2 separate regions of the Homo sapiens genome follow, and region 2 is linked to region 1. The links come from fine-mapping of genetic effects on gene expression. A gene starts in region 1. The other region holds a variant in brackets. All regions are shown on one strand. Distances are from middle to middle. Region 1 holds the start of BCAS1-AS1 (BCAS1 antisense RNA 1). Region 2 overlaps BCAS1 (brain enriched myelin associated protein 1).

What was found.
Region 2: its variant is fine-mapped to the expression of BCAS1-AS1 in spinal cord (GTEx, PIP 0.97).

The regions. Positions count from the first base shown.
Region 1 is chr20:53,912,830-53,918,214 of GRCh38, forward strand. It overlaps BCAS1-AS1 (BCAS1 antisense RNA 1), which reads left to right and starts at 2,660. Exons shown (of 5, transcript NR_199019.1): 1 at 2,660-2,737.
Region 2 is chr20:53,941,021-53,946,405 of GRCh38, forward strand. It overlaps BCAS1 (brain enriched myelin associated protein 1), which reads right to left. Exons shown (of 13, transcript NM_001366298.2): 13 at 2,521-3,976. The coding sequence ends at 3,902. BCAS1-AS1 (BCAS1 antisense RNA 1) reads left to right here. Exons shown (of 5, transcript NR_199019.1): 4 at 265-375; 5 at 1,155-2,561. Among named protein-coding and RNA genes, the nearest start is that of BCAS1-AS1, 28 kb to the left of the region's middle. The variant G/A (reference allele first, on the strand shown) is at 2,984.

The DNA of each region.
Region 1 (5,385 bases):
CGGATCACAAGGTCAGGAGATCAAGACCATCCTGGCTAACATGGTGAAACCCCGTCTCTACTAAAAATACAAAAATTAGCCAGTCGTGGTGGTGGGCGCCTGTAGTCCCAGCTACTTGAGAGGCTGAGGCAGGAGGATGGCATGAACCTGGGAGACAGAGCTTGCAGTGAGCTGAGATCGCGCCACTGCACACCAGCCTGGGCGACAGAGCGAGACTCTGTCTCAAAAAAAAAAAAAAATATATATACACACACACACACACACACACACACACATATTCATATATATACGTATATATGTATACATGTATATACGTATATATGTATATATACATATATGTATATATATCCATGTGTGTGTATATATATCCATGTGTATATATGTATACGTATATATACACGTATATATGTACGTATACATGTATATATATACACATATACAGATACATGTATATATACATATATATAAAATAAAGCATAAGATATAATTATATTTTTGGAAATGACACATAACTCTATGTATTATGATGGTTTTCTTTTGAGGTTTCCTCTTTGGTTCTTGAGGAGTCAAATCCCTTCTTTGCTATGCCGTAGTTGCATGTTGAGAGGTCCTGTGCCAGGTGCTCAGGTGCCTGTCATTTCATCAGCTACACACCCTGGAAGCAGGCCTGACTCAATGGTCCCTGCTTTCCCCATGAAGCAGCAGTGACTCAGAGAGATGACACATTTGCCCACGGTCATTCAGTTTCTCAGCTAAATGAAGCTTCATTTAGCTTCATTTCTCCTTCTCTTAATCTCCAGGTATCTATTTATCTATCCATCCATCCATCCATCTTCCTATCCATCTATTCTCTATTGATGTATGTATATATATATATGTATTATGTATCTATGTGTCTATTACCTGTTTATGTTTCTATTACTTATCTATATCTACCCATTTATATGTATGTATGTATCTATCTACCATCTATCTATCCATCCTCTACCTATTTTCCATCTATCTATCATCTATGTATGTATTATGTACCTATGTGTCTGTCATCTATGTATCTATTACCTATCTATCTTTTTAAAAATTTATTTAATAGAGACGGGGTCCCGTTATGTTGCCCAGGCTGGTCTTGAACTCTGGACTCAAGTGATCCTCCTGCCTCGGCCCCCCAAAGTGCTGGGATTACAGGCATGAGCCACCATGCCTGGCTGTACCTATCTATCTTTATCTACTCATCTATATATATTGTATGTATCTATCATCTATCTATCTATCTATCTATCTATCTATCTATCTATCTATCTATCATCTATCAATCATCTATGTGTCTTATCTATCATCTATCTTATCTATGTATCTCTATGACCTGTCTATCTATGTATCTATCTGTTATCTCTCTGGTTATCTGGTCTCCAGTGCCCACCTCCTCCTCCCAGTCTTTTCTCTCACCCTGACTCTGAACTTCTCCAGGCCTGGTGTTATGTTTTCTGTAGCGTGACCTTATAACTAACCATCCCATCGAAGACGCTTGGGGGAGTGAAAGGAGGGGCTATTAATACTTCTGCAAAAACTGGCGCTGCCCTGAGCACACTGGGATGCCTGGTGGTGGTGGTGGTTAGGTGTAGATTTCTCCCCATTCCTTAGTGCCTCACAAGGGTGCTGTAAAACGTTTGTCGAGTGTGTTTTATCAACAGTCTCAGAAGGGGTGGTAAAAAAAAATACTCGTTTGTTTCATACAGAGAGAAATTGCATTACAAAGTGATGACTTACAAAATCACCGAAAGGAAATCAATGGTGAGGTGGAGCCAAACCTCTGCTGTAGAATTTCTGGATTCAGATAACACAGAGCTCTCTCCATCAAGCATTTGTGTGCAGAAGCTAAGCTCCAGGCCCAGGGAGAGAGCTTGAAGCAAAGACATAATAAAACAGTAACAGCTGCTACCGAAGCTGTGTCATGCAACTTTGCTTAGCCCTTTACTGTATGGTCTCATTTATTCCTTAAGGAAGGTGAGATTATAATAGAAAAGGAAAATGAATGTGCCGCAGTCACACAAATCACTCACTACTACACTGCCACCAGAGCCCAACAGAGTAGCCACAATTGTTTTCTTCCTAAAAGGTGCAATGGAGTAATACTGCACAATTTCCATTTAGATGTCCCTTCAACACGTTTCCTGGGAATCTTAGAGCAGTTAACACCCATTTAGAAAGGAGCTTTTTCATTTCGTAAATATGTTCAGTGCACCAAAACAGGCAAACAAGATAACCCGAACTCTTAACTTGCCTCAGCACCTCACCCCTTAAGATACATAGAAACAAATCAGAAATTATGCTCAATAAGGAATTTGCAAGGCTGAGGAGGGGGAGCTGGAGTCAAATCAGCTGGGTCTTCCGCCCCCTTCAGTAGGAGGGGGAAGATTACTGCAGAGAATGTAACAAGGAGAATAAGAGAGAGGGAGGGAGGGGGAAGAGAGAGAGAGAGGGAGGGGGGTGGAGAAAGAGAGAGACAGAGAAGGAAAGGAAGAAAGAAAAAGAGAGAGAATAACTGTTGGTAACGGACAGCCCAAGAAAATTGTAGAAAAGTCCATCTCTGGTACCTACCTGGTGCCACCTTCCCCCCACCCCCGCGTTGTTTATTTATTTATTTATTTTTTCTAGCCACCACCATTTTGTTGCCTGGCAGAGGTGTGAGATGCAAGGCTGTTTACAAAGCCCCCAGCAAGAGCAATCCCATCATCAGGAGGTTTGCTTCCCCCCCGGGCCAGCCCTCTCGCTCTCCATGCCCGTCTTGGCTGCATGCGTTGTACCTAACACATTTAACCCGCGTTTCTTAAGAGTTCTGCAAAATGGTGTCTGCTGGTGTTTGCAAGGGAAGCTCCCGCTGGGCGTCCCGAGCTGGGTGGGAGCTGAGTGTGCGGTTCCCTAACGAGCTGGCGGCCGGCCTGAGCGGCTCTGATCTCCAATTCTGACGGCTTGTCCTTCAGGTGACCTATATTATCTGGCACCTCAGTTGCTGCTCACAAAGAAAAAGTATCACTGGAAGAAAGAAAAAAAAAATCCCAAGTGATTGTGTACATGCTCTTTATTGAGAATATTAAACTCAGACGCCCTCTGCTGGGCAAGACGGGAAGGGGAGGCTGGGAGTAGGGGAGGGTGGCCGGGAGGGCTCAGGAGAAGCCGGGGACGGCCTCCTTCCTGTGAGATCTGTGGGCATGATTCAGGGCAAAGGGCGCCCATCAGAGCTGCTTTAGGCAAAGGGAAATACAAAACAAAAGTGAAACCGCTGACAAGGAAATCATTTAATTGGGGAGAAATGACAACTTCTTCACTTGGATTTTTTTTTTTCCTGTTCCTAAAATTGTTGCTTTTGATAGGTGAGAGGGAATGGGGTGGGGGAGACTGCTGGACACTGCCAACTTATTCATCAAGACAAAGGGTTTGGGTTTCAGGGAAGTCCTAGCAAAGAGTGTGGCTCAGCGGGTAGAAGGGTAGCTGAAATACCAGGACATTTTTGAGAGTGAAACAGAGTGCTATGGATGATGATGCGGACACAGCAGGTATAGTCCAGAGTGTCCCAGGCAAATCTGACTACCTAGTCCAGCACTGCACAGAGAGCTTTCTAGGATGATATGAATGTTTTGCATCTGTCCTGTCCTATCTATCTATCTATTTATTTATTTATTTTTGAGACAGAGCCTTTCTCTGTTGCCCAGGCTGGAGTGCAGTGGCACGATCTCGGCTCACGGCAACCTCCAACTCTTAAGTTCAAGCGATTCTCGTACCCCAACCTCCCGAGTAGCTGGGATTACAGGCACCCGCCACCATGGCTGGCTAATTTTTGTATTTTTAGTAGAGACAGGGTTTCGCCGTGTTGGCCAGGATGGTCTCAAACTCCTGACCTCAGGTGATCCACCTGCCTCAGCCTCCCAAAGTGCCGGGATTACAGGCGCGAGCCACTGCGCCCGGACTGTCCTGTCCTATATGGTAACCACCACCCACATGTGGCTACTGGGCTCTTGAAATGCAGCTACGCAACTGTGAGGGGATGAATTCTTAACTTCATTTAATTTTTGTTATTCTGAATTTACATTTAAATAGTCACGTATGTCTAGTGGCTATCAGACGGTAGAGCTCTGGTCTTACTATTCACAGGAACACACCGTGACCCCCATTGACAGCAGCTAAGACCCCAGGAACAGGCTTGTTGCGAGAGGCCCTCCAAACAATTTATTGAATGAATAAAAACTCAGTAATCAAAAGTCACAGAGATAGAAATTCACAACACTTCTTGGAGACTTATAGGAGCTTCCAGAAACACAACTTCTCCCAGGGAGAGTCAAGAGAGCAGTGTCATTTCCTATAAAATGTCCAAGGCCAATCCCAGGTCCCGGTGTCAGCCCTTGCGTGTGGCACTGGCACCAGCAGCCAGAAAGGTTACTTGTGACTTGTTTTCAGTGCTTTCCTGGGAGTGTCCTGAAAGCTGGCAGTGTTTCTGCCTCGTCAGAAGAGGCCTCATTCATTTGGGGTTGTACCAGCAACTTAAAAAGTTTTTTTTTTTCTTCCCTCTTCCAGTGTTAATAGATTTTGAAAGAGGCATTTTTGTTTCTAATTACAAATTCCTGGGTGATGTCATTAAGCCCTCAAACACCCGGTGAGGGCGGCACTGAATGGGGAAAGACAATATGCTAACAAGTTATCTGAGGGTGTCAGAAAGAAATGATGAAAAACAGTACAGTTGGGGGAAATGTTTTCCAGCCTGCTTTCTGGTTTTAGCGACTGCATGGGAAGAGATAAGACACACATGGCTTTTATAAGGAGCCATCGGGATCTCTAGGGGACATGAGGCAGGAGAAAAGAATTGGGCTGAAAGCATCCAATCATCACATATTCACGGAGAAAGAGATTACAATATAGCAGAGGAAGCTCTTCCAGGGCTCCTACAGGGACCTTTGGGACAAAGATTCAGTGGGCTTTGGGACAGCTTGACTTCAACTAGATGGTATTTGAATAATCTGCTGGAGAGAAAACAGATATAGCACACACTGTCACATTTAGCGTTGAAACTCTCGGTTTGACTATGAGTAATGTTCAGCCATGCCCAAGGGTCAGGCCTACACTCACTCAGAAACAAGTGGGGAATTGAAGCAATTATTCAGATAATCCATAGACATAGCTACTGGCCAGTGCTGCACCCCTGATTTAGCCCAGAAACAGTAATGCTATTATAAGCTGTTGGTGATTTGTGGAGCAATCTTGAATTTATTAAGGAAAGGAGATTATAGAAAAATCCAGAATGCCAATGGGATGCATTCAGGTTGAGTCATGCAGAGTAAGGTGGGAAATGGAGGGCCTCCCACCCCTGCAAGGAACATCTTGCTTTAGGCCAAAATG
Region 2 (5,385 bases), 28 kb after region 1:
TCTTGGTTTCTTGAAATCTAATTCTTTAAGACACTTAGAATCTAATTTAATGAGACCCCAGTGCTTCTGGACTGTTTGCAAACAGACAAGAACAATCTAGTGTGTGTGAAGTGGGAGGAGGGAGGGGAGAGAGTGTGTGTTTAAACCCCTGATAATTTATCTAAAAAGCAAGGGGATACATACAACAAAGACCAGGAATTTCACTTTCTTTCTCTTTTCCTTCCCATTTTGGTTTCTATTTTGTTATGTGCCTCCTTCTCCAAGACAACGAATGCAGGAAGGACCTCACTGGCTGCTGGGAACAACTGCCCTTTTGAATGAATTCTTTTATGGTTACCAGTCAAAAAGTCACCGTCAGCTGGAACTGGAAGGGAGGTGTGTGTGTGTGTGTGTGTGTGCGCGTGTGTGTGTGTACGCGCAGTGGCAGCCATTTCAGCTCAATAGCTCCATTCCTGGAAAGGCCACTTCTTCTTGACATGGGAGAAGACACACTTCCCTGTGTACCTAAAAATAAATAATAAGTAAATAAATAATAATAATAAGAAAGTCATTTTTGCTCCCTCCCCCAGGTCTTAATTCTTCTTTCTCTTTTAATCATGTTTTTCTGTGTGCCACCTTTGCTTTGCTTATTTCCCCCACTGCTTGTTCTGTCTGATGGCATTTCTGGGAATCTGTGTCCTAAAGGCTTTCTTGGGTTTATTGGTGAGTTTCAGCTCTTTTTCACTCTAGTTCTGCATAAGGGGTGGGCATTAGTATTTATTGTAAATGCATTGGAAATGGGATCTCAACAACAATAACACACACACACACACACAAACACAAAAATGGAGTATTAACTTGTTTCTTAAGCCATAACTGAATTTAGAGTTCTCCCAGTAAGTCATGCGCTTTACTTCTCTCTGGCATTTCTTGCTTTTTTAAAAAAAAGCAATTTCATTAAAAGACTATTCTCTTTTTTGGCCCAGGAGCATAGGAAACCAGTTATAAAAACTGTTGGCATGCTTTGCAGAGAGATTCTCAGCAAAGAGGCTTTTTTTTTGTTTTATTTTGTTTTGTTTTGTTTGAGTGGGGGCTTGGGAGGGCTCCATCTGCCTTAGTAACTGGCTAAGTAACTGGCCTGGGCTACTCAGTCTGTTTCTCTTCCTCCTGCCTAGGGGCATTTCTTATCTGGGCAAAAAGCCCCTGTACCCAGCGAGGTGAAACTTGCAAATGATACTGTCACCTTCCTCAATGGACTGCAGCTCAGGAGCTCACCAAAGGTTGCAGCAGACAACCCCCACGGTGTTTGGAGACAAAGGAATAGCAGCTGCCTGGTTTCCTTGAATCACCCCGTGCTCTGACGATGGCAGTGATGGGCCTCCCACCAATGGCTTCCCCAAGTGCTGTTTTCCTGCTTCATGCCAAGTTAAGCATTCTGATACTAAGCGGCACGAGATAGTTCTCAACTGGGTGAGGCACAGGTGTGAGTAATCTCGAGGTATGGTCAGGAGGTTTGAAAAAACTAACCCAGCTGCAAGGAAAAGACCTCTGGTCTTTATTGGAAACACGAATTTGACCTGTCCAAGCTGGGAGCTAATAGGCCCCAGCAGCTCAGGATCCCCTCCTCACTTACGCTTGGGTTTTGAGTGATACCATATTTTTCTGAACACATTTTCCAAATGCCTATTTGCCAAAGCCGTGGTGTAATTTGCCTAAGCAGCAAACTTGTCCTTAGAGTCGAGGTCCATCCACATCAGGAGAGTATATTCAATGTTTATCTCCGATCAATGTGTGATGAATTGCATATGAGATAGATTTGTGTGAGCCAATGTGTGTGTGTGGATCTGTGTTAGTTACATGTGTTTATTTGCATGTATGTAAATATGACTGTGTGAGTGCATGGATCTATTCCTGCATGATATATATTTATATATATGAATATGTGCATATATATGCAAATATGGGTATAAATATGTATCTGAACATATAGGTGTGTATCTGTAGTGGACACTGTCAATGCACTCATCCTCCAGTTACTTAGGCATCCCAGCTTCTCAGCTCAATGGGGGCCGCTTGCCCATCCCCCCACCTCCCAGGGCAGCCCAGAATTCACCTACCAGGGTTCAAAGGCTGGCTCCCTTGACTCAAGGTCAAACTATCTGGGTGGTGCAATTCATGCTCCAGTTGAAACCAACCCTTGCCCAACTCTTTTCTTGCCCTCTTCTTTTTCTCTTACTCCCTTTCCCTCGGAGCCCACTCTCAGTATATCCTATGCGTCCAAATCCCCATCTCAGGCTCTGCTCCAAGCAACCTGGCCTAAGACAGCACTATTCTATACATGCATGTGTGTGTACATGCAAACATACAACTGCACACATTTGTGTGTGTGTGTGCCCATATACAAGGAAATCCGGGAAGATCTGGGAGAGAATGATCTTCCAAAGAAGATAATGGAGAAAGAGTATGGATTTTATAATGTAGAAGTTAGAGTCATCTCAGATATAGAGTGGGACTGCTTTGAAGTTGAAAATTAAAAGATACTTTAGAAGTAAATGTATTTTTTATTAAATCAGAAAAAGAAAGATACAGTTTACATGACTGTCAGTCAATCATATGCTACTTTGAATTACATTTTAATAGACTCAGGGTCCTATTTACTCCTTTGTACAGGTATTAAAAACAACTCAGGTATTTGAGAAGTCTTCTGTAAATTTTTATTAACTGAGGTTATGGGGAGGGTTTTATCAGAGCACATCCTGAGAACATTAGGAATGACAGACACACTTGAGATAAGTGTCAGACGGAACAGATGAAGCGAGCCCCTCAGCCATCTGAGAAACATTAATAATGTAAGATAGCAGAGACCAAATCTTTGTTAGGGATACAGTATTACAGGATAAAAATGGGGACCTTGCCGCCCCCTTGTGTTGCAAAATAACCGTGCAACTTCCTTTATTTTTTATTTATTTTTTTTTTTTAAGTTGTAATCTTTGCCGTTGTCACT[G/A]AGCCTCAAAAGCAATTGTTTTCCCAAATCATTTTAAGCCCTCCCCAGTCAATCTTTTCCCTCTCATCAATAACTTACAAGGACCCTATTTGAAAAACAACGCTTATTCATTCCTTTTTCTATACCCCACACATTCCGTTCTAGGAAATTGGCAACCACCCAACACAGCCCGGGTTCTCCCTCCTTGAGATGTGAATTTAAACAAATGGATTTTCGTCTCCCTTCTTCAAGCTTAGAGGATAAGCACGCATTTACTACAACGCTTAATTCCTTCTAGCAGCATTTCTCTTCTATAACTTACTTGCCACTGCCTTTTTTTTTTTTTGATAGAATCTTGCTCTGTCGCCCAGGGTGGAGTGCAATGGTGCAACTTCGGCTCACTGCAACCTCCACCTCCTGGGTACAAGCGGTTCTCGTGCGTTGGGCTCCCGAGTAGCTGGGACTACAGGTGTGTGCCACCATGCCTGGCTAATTTTTGTATTTTTAGTAGAGACGGGGTTTCATGATGTTGGCCAGGCTAGTCTTGAACTCCTGACCTCAGGTGATCCACCTGCCTCGGCCTCCCAAAGTGCTGAGATTACAGGCGAGAGCCACCACGCCCGGCCACCACTGCCATTTTCATCACTTAACCCGAACACATTCCTCTATTCCCTCCCTTTCCTGCTTGGTGATCATCGACTCTTCTGACCCAACTAGGTGACCTGCTAAACCATCTTTACTGTTATTTGCCAGAAAAGACTGGACCAGAGACGTAAATAATACACCTCAATATACAACAGCTCGGGCTTAATTTCTAGGCAGAATTTCATTTGCTGGCCATCAGAAGAATATATACATGGAGCGTGTTTGGGGAGGAGATGGAGTAAGGAGAACACATCTTGGTGGCAGGAGAACCTGGTGGGAACCGTGCTGATTTGTTTACTTGGATTTGCCAACTGGTCCGATGGATACTGGGTCTGTTTGCACTTGAGCATCCAACATCCGCTTTGGTCCCTGGAGAAAAACAGAAAGACGTGGCAGCCTATTGAAGCTCTGTAATGTCAACAGCAACAATGGCCATTTATGTAGCACTTACTCTGTGCTAGGTGTTGGGCTAAATTAATATATCTCATTCCTCAGTGCTGGGTAAGAGAATGGTCTCCAGTCAGATGCCCGGGTTCGATACCCAGTTACATGACTTTCTAGCTTTGTGAAATCTTGGACAAATTACTTATCATCTCTTTGCGCTTTGGTTTCTTTATCTTTAAAATGGAAATGACAAACTTATCTCAGAGGGTTGTTCCCAAGATAAAGTGAGTTCATGCTTATAATGTACTTAGTACCTAGGGGGTACTAATTCTACCTCACTTTAGCTCCCTCCCCAGTTACCATCTAGGTTCACCACCCTGTTTTATTTTCTTCTTTTTTTTTTATTATACTTTTAAGTTCTAGGGTACATGTGAGCAATGTGCAGGTTTGTTACATATGTATACATGTGCCATGTTGGTGTGCTGCACCCATTAACTCGTCATGTAACATTAGATATATCTCCTAATGCTATCCTTCCCCCAACCCCCCATCCCAAACCCTATTTTATTCTCTCTCAGAACATACCACTCTCTGAAATGATCTTATTATCTAATTTATTTGTCTAACATCTGTCTTCTACACCAGATTGGAAGCTGCAAGGATTCTGCGTGTCTCAGTGCCTTGCAGGTTCCTAGCACATGGTACCTAGCCTTAACATTGACTGAATGTGGGTGAAGGAATGTTGTCAGGCAGATACAATTATTTTATTTTATTTTTTTGAGACAAAGTCTTACTCTGTTGCCTAGGCTGAAGTACAGTGGTGGGACTATGTTCACTGTAGCCTTGAAGTCCTGGGCTCAAATGATCCCCCCACGTCAGCCTCCCCAGTAGCTTGGACTACAGGTGCACACCACCAAACTCAGCTAATTTTAAAATTTTTTTTGTAGAGACGGGGTCTCAATTTGTTGTCCAGGATGGTCTTGAACTGCTGGGCTCATGTGATCCTTCTACCTTGGCCTCCCAAAGTGATGGAGTTACAGGTGTAAGCCACTATGCCTAGCCTGAGTACTATTATTATTATTATTACTTTACCGTTTCTGTCAAGTATAACTTATAAGTAGTAAAGTTAACCTTTTCTGTATTTGGTTCTATGAGGTTAGACCAACACAAATAGCCCCCTAAAACCACCATCCAAATCAACATGTCACATGGTTCTGTCCCCCCTCAGATCTTTCTTGTGCCTTTTGTGGTCAACCGCTCCCCACCGCAGACCCTGGCAAGCACCGATCTGTTTTCATCCCTAGAGTTCTGCCTTTGCCAGGATGTCATATCATGGGATCCTAGAGTATACACAGCCCTTCAGACTAACTTCTTTCATGTAGCATAGTGGATGT